2 separate regions of the Homo sapiens genome follow, and region 1 is linked to region 2. The links come from fine-mapping of genetic effects on gene expression. A gene starts in region 2. The other region holds a variant in brackets. All regions are shown on one strand. Distances are from middle to middle. Region 1 overlaps TIE1 (tyrosine kinase with immunoglobulin like and EGF like domains 1). Region 2 holds the start of SZT2 (SZT2 subunit of KICSTOR complex).

Region 1 (2,907 bases), 68 kb after region 2:
GCAAGCTCCGCCTCCCAGGTTCAGGCCATTCTCCTGCCTCAGCCTCCCGAGTAGCTGGGACTACAGGTGCCCGCCACCACTTCCAGCTAATTTTTTGCATTTTTAGTAGAGACGGGGTTTCACCATGTTCGCCAGGATGGTCTCAAGCTCCTGACCTCGTGATCCACCCGCCTCGGCCTCCCAAAGTGCTGGGATTACAGGAGTGAGCCACCACGCCCGGCCAGTTTCTGTCTCTTGGGTTTAACTACGCCCCTCACCCCAAGATTGACCAGCAGTAAAAGGTAGACATTGAATGGAGCTTATTAGAACATTTATTTTTTTCTGAATGACAGGCCGGGAGTGGGAGTAGCTGAACAGGGCATGTTAGTGGTGTGAGTGCTGGCTTAAGCGAAGGAGCTGGAGTGGGGGTTTGTGTTGGGGGAGCAGTGGGATGGGAAACACACCTGTGGGGCAGCTGAACTAGAAAGAAGGATGCCCAGGATAGCTATGAGACACCTACAAAGCATGGGAACCCAGTTCCCCTAAGCCCACCCCATCCCCAGATCCCTTTTTTTCTCCCTTAAGTTAAAAAAATTCCTTGAGGCAGCTTAAGTCAGAGGCTGTAAGGGTCAGACTGGTCACAGGTTAGACAGCAGAGTTTGCTCCGGCCAGCAGAGCCACGTTCTGGCTGGATGGCAGCTCAGGCCTCCTCAGCTGTGGCATCAATGCCCGCGTAAGTGAAGTTCTCAAACAGCGACATGTTCACATAGGCCTGGGGGCAGAGCAAGCTTTAGTGGGGGCCAGGAATGGGGGTGCATCTGGCCTCAAGCTCCTGGACTTCCATGTGGTGGGGGCATTTGAACTGACACTGATTTGTTCTGGAGACCTAAGATGGCCCCATGGCCAAGAGTGGCCTTTACCAGCCCAGGGCAGTGAAGGCATCAGGCCACAGTTGGGGCCTCAGGTGAGAGGCTCTCAATGCCATTGTTAGAGGAGGGTTTTTACATGCACTCTTTCAATGAATTCTTGGCTTATGCGTTCATTCATTCAGTAACTTATCTGTTCAAAAGCCATTTTAGACGACTCATCCATTTATATGGTTATTTGATCATTCCTTCATTCTTAAGATGGTTATTTAATCATTAATTTACTTGAAGAACTCTTCATATTTACTAATTTTGATATATTTTTCATTATATTTATTTGATAATTCACTTATTCACATGGTTAGTAGATTGAGTTATTGAATTACATGTTCATATGATTATTGTATCATCTATCCACTAATTCCATTCATTCATTCATACGGTTACTGTATCACTCATTCACCCATCCATCCATCTGGTTAGTGACTATTCATGCACTCTGCTCTGGCTCTGGCAGGTGGGGAGAGGTGTCCCAGATGAGGACAGGCTGATGGCCTCAGCAGAGGACAGGCAAGCAGTCTGGGACTTGGGGCTTAAGGTAGGGATTTGCTGTTGGGGCTAAGCAGTGGCCTTGGAAGAGTTTTGGAAGGGCCTGGTGTCTAAACCAGTGAGGGCTGGAAAGGCAGGCTGCATCCTGGGGCCCAGCCTAGCCGTGGTGACAGCCCCCACTGAGGGAGGTTGGGCAGGCAGTGTGGTTGGGACAGGGGTCATGGCACCTCTGAGAGGGCAC[T/C]CTGGAGCACTCTGTGAGCCCAGCCCGCCACCTCAGCCCCAGTCTCCTCACCTTCCTGGCTTCCAGCATGCGGCCTAGCTGTAGCGCAATCTGGGCAAAGGGGGGTCGCTCATAGGGACGGTCCCGCCAGCACTGACGCATCAGCTCGTACCTGCGAGGGGGCATTGCTGAGATGAGGAGTCAGGCCAGCTGGGGTGATGGGGTCACAGGGATCAAAGCTGAGGTCACTCATCACAGAGATAGGATCATGGAGCTCAAGGATGGGGTGACTCACACTTCATCGTCACAGTTTCGAGGCTGCTCCATGCGGTAGCCCTGGGGCAGCTTTTCATAGAGCTCGGCACAGGTCATGCCACAGTAGGGTGTACCTCCTGCAGGAGGGGACAAAGTGCTCTCGGTCCAGGGCTCCACGTGGGGTAAGGTGGGGCACTCTGGGGGACGGGGATCAGGAACTCACCAAGGCTCACTATCTCCCAAAGAAGGACTCCAAAGGACCAGCTGAAATAAGAAGGATGCACTTAGTTACCTTCTAGGCCCTGGTCCCTAGCAGTTTAGCTTCTACCTGCCCAAGATGTGCAGTGCCTCCCAGCCCCGCTGTATGTGTCTACTCTGTAAGTATCTGGCCTTGGCCAGCTGTTGTCTCTGCGCCAATGAAGCTCCTTCATACTGCCCCCATCCCTGGGCTCAGCACAATTAGAGCTCTTTTGTTTTGTTTTTTTTTTTTTTTTTTTTTTGAGACAGGGTCTCACTCTGTCACCCAGGCTGGAGTGCAGTGGCTTACTGCAGCCTCAACCTCCCAGGATCAGGTGGTCCTCCCACCTCAGTCTCCCTTGTAGCTGGTGTGTGCCACCATGCTCAGCTAATGTTTTGTATTTTTATTTATTTATTTATTTATTTATTTATTTATTTTTTGAGACAGAGTCTCGCTCTGTCGCCCAGGCTGGAGTGCAGTGGCGAGATCTCGGCTCACTGCAAGCTCTGCCTCCTGGGTTCACGCCATTCTCCTGCCTCAGCCTCCCAAGTAGCTGGGACTACAGGTGCCCGCCACCATGCCCGGCTAATTTCTTTTTGTATTTTTAGTAGAGATGGGGTTTCACTGTGTCAGCCAGGATGGTCTCGATCTCCTGACCTTGTGATCTGCCCGCCTTGGCCTCCCAAAGTGCTGGGATTACAGGCGTGAGCCACCACGCCCGGCCATGTTTTGTATTTTTAGTAGAGACAGGGTCTTGCCATCTTGCCCAGGCTGGTCTCAAACTCCTGGTCTCCAGTGAT
Region 2 (2,907 bases):
TGACTCTAATACTTAATAGCTGTGTAACTTTGTTACTTTTTTTTTTTTTTGAGACGGAGTTTCACTCTTGTTGCCCAGGCTGAAGTGCAATGGCATGATCTCAGCTCATCGCAACCTCCACCTCCCGGGTTCAAGCGATTCTCCTGCCTCAGCCTCCCGAGTAGCTGAGATTACAGGCCTGCGCCACCATGCTTGGCTAATTTTGCATTTTCAGTACAGACAGGCTTTCTCCATGTTGGTCAGGCTGGTCTCGAACTCCTCACCTCAGGTGATCTGCCCACCTCGGCCTCCCAGTGTTGGGATTACAGGTGTAAGCCACTGCGCCCGGCTTACTTTGTTACTCTTAATATCTCTGTGCCTCAGTTCCTAAACTAAAAAAAGGAGATGATACAGTGTCCACTTCATAGGGCTGAGGATTAACTGATATTGGTAAAGAGCTTAGAATGGTACTGAGCATGCAGTATGTATGCAGTAATGAATACTATTTCTATCATTATACACATCTCTCACCCTTCCCACCTACTGATATGTTGGCACCTTTCCTGGTGGTGGTGTTTTATCCGAATCTGAGATTTTAAGCTCAGATCTTCTAACTCCAAACTGCTAGTTCCTGGATGAGTGGCATTTGAGTAAGGTACTAAATCTTTCTCATTTTTCAGTTTTCTCCTCTGTGAGAATGCCACCTTCCTTGCACAAGTCTGAATGACACAACATATATAAGGTTCCTTGCATGTTCCTTAGCATTTAACGAATATATCATATCACCTTTCTGGTTTATTACATGTGATTCTCACAACACACTATAAGACAGATATTTTATAAAGAAGGAAACAGGATCCGGGAAGACTCGCCTGAGGTTGCACAGATTAGCTACATGACAGCGCCAATATTGGAACGAGGTCTCAGTCCGACTCAAATGTTTTTTTCATGAAATTAAAGCTGCTTTTCTAAAAGCATGAGCCCTAGAACTAAATAAATTCATGCTGTTTATGGTATTCCAATGCCTAAAGAAATGCAAAAACCAGCAAAGTAAATCTACTGCCGTGTTGCCCATTGAAACTGCAACAGAAAGTCAAAATACAAGTTTTGTTAACACCGCTATAAGTCTTAGAGACGACGACGCGGGTGACATGTCAGTAAACAAAACAAAGCGAACAGTTACTCCTTTAGCTCCCCGAGGAAACTGCGGACCGCGTCCCATACACAGTCCGCAGGGGTACCATAGTCGGGCCTTCCGGGCTGGGCTGGTCCCTGCCGAGGCTACGCAGCCCGGCCACCCCCAGACCTAGAGGAGGCCAACGCCACGCCTGCCCGCCGGACCCTCCCCCTCGGATCTCGGGGCCCAGTGCTGCGCCCGCCCGCCCCTCACCTCCGGCTCCGGGCGCTCCGAGGCCATCACACAGCCCTCCCGCGCCGGCCCGGGCCAGTGAGGGTGTTCCACTCTTGACCCCTGACCTCGCTACCTCGGCACCCAGCAGGAACCGGAAGTTGGTGGGAGGGCCGAGTTCCAGTTTTCTGATTGGTGGACGAAGCCTTCTCGTAGGCGTTTGCTGACTGGAAAACCGGAAGTGAAATCGTGGCAGCCGCCTCGGCCGCCGCAATGCAGGTGAGAGTTGCGTTGGGCGTACTAGCGGCTGGCAAGCTTCGGGTACAGGGACCGAGAGTGGGCTGGCTAAGGAGAATGAAGAGTTGGGACTGAGAAGAGAGGGCAGAACCCACGGCTGATAAGGGAATGTGGGCTGGGGGGCGAGGCTAATTGGAGCGGGAGCGGCGGCGATTAGAGGTGGGGGTGGAGCTTGCCTGACAGGAGACAGTCGGGCTAAATCCGGAGGGAGGAGGCAGCACCTGTTTGCTTGGCGTGGGAAAGGATTAGGTTGTAATACGGGGAGGCTGAGATGCAGTCCAAGGAAGACGGCTCAAGAAGGTGGTGGGTTGGCTCAGGCCCTGTCCTAAGCTGCTGGATGGAGGCTGTTGGTTGCCGATATAGCAGGGGATCTAATTGGAAAGAAGCCCAAGCAGTGAGGGAATTGTGGGCCGCGATGGCTGAAAGCTAAGCAGCTTATAATCAGAGGCCATGGTGGAACCCGGGATCAAGTTTCTGTCAGGCAGGTTTGCAAGACAGTTTTGCATCCCTCTTCCCAGCCTGTGCCCTATAGTTGTTAAGGGTGAAGAAATGGAGTAAAACAGGAGACCACCGATGGGAAGGAAATGCTTTGCAGACCCCCAGCATTTTAATTTGTTTGTCCAGTGCTTAGAAGCATGTGTGGTTTTTGTTTTTCATTTGTCACTTAGTTTCTTGCAGCTGGTAGTCTCAATAAATGTTAATGGGTTGACTGAGCTTGTGAAAGAGGCACGGGAATATTGACACAGAGATAGATGATTGCATATTAATTCAGCAAGGAGAAGGTTGAAACAAAATGATGAGAGCAGATGGAAAGCTGGAGTCGTTGGTTGGGGGAGGGAAAGGGGAGAGCAGGACTGGTGTTCAGAGAAGTCTTCATGAGTAGGCAGATTTCCCAGAGACTGACAAGACAGCCAGGCTCACAGATGCTAGGATGGAGGAAGCTGGAGTGCATGTGCTACAGAGGTGCACATGAGAGAATGATCTCCTGGCATTAGGTCTGTCGAAAATGTCTCAGTGAGGGAGTGTAGGGTGTACCTAACACAGAGAAAAACCAGGCATAGATTAGGAGGTGATGGGGAAAAGGAATCAGTTGGTGGAAGGACTTGGGGTCAGGCAAACAGGTTGGAAGGTCTCAGGGTTGATGCTGTCTATAACCCAAATACCAAAGATAGAAAACAACCTGGCTATCCTATGCCAATGAGATCCTGTGTTACCTGACTGGTGTTGCACACCATCTCCTTGGCTTTCCAGCCCTCCTTTCTATGTGTCATACTCGTTTATCT

What was found. PIP is the estimated chance that this variant, and not a neighbour inherited with it, causes the effect.
Region 1: its variant is fine-mapped to the expression of SZT2 in blood mononuclear cells (TOPMed, PIP 0.98).

The regions. Positions count from the first base shown.
Region 1 is chr1:43,320,495-43,323,401 of GRCh38, reverse strand. TIE1 (tyrosine kinase with immunoglobulin like and EGF like domains 1) reads right to left here. Exons shown (of 23, transcript NM_005424.5): 20 at 2,093-2,133; 21 at 1,910-2,006; 22 at 1,687-1,786; 23 at 294-751. The coding sequence ends at 680. Among named protein-coding and RNA genes, the nearest start is that of MPL, 16 kb to the left of the region's middle. RefSeq lists an enhancer at 1,260-2,459. The variant T/C (reference allele first, on the strand shown) is at 1,636.
Region 2 is chr1:43,388,458-43,391,364 of GRCh38, reverse strand. SZT2 (SZT2 subunit of KICSTOR complex) reads right to left here and starts at 1,466. Exons shown (of 72, transcript NM_001365999.1): 1 at 1,370-1,466. The coding sequence starts at 1,396. It overlaps MED8 (mediator complex subunit 8), which reads left to right and starts at 1,565. Exons shown (of 7, transcript NM_201542.5): 1 at 1,565-1,606. The coding sequence starts at 1,601. RefSeq lists a silencer at 1,146-1,475.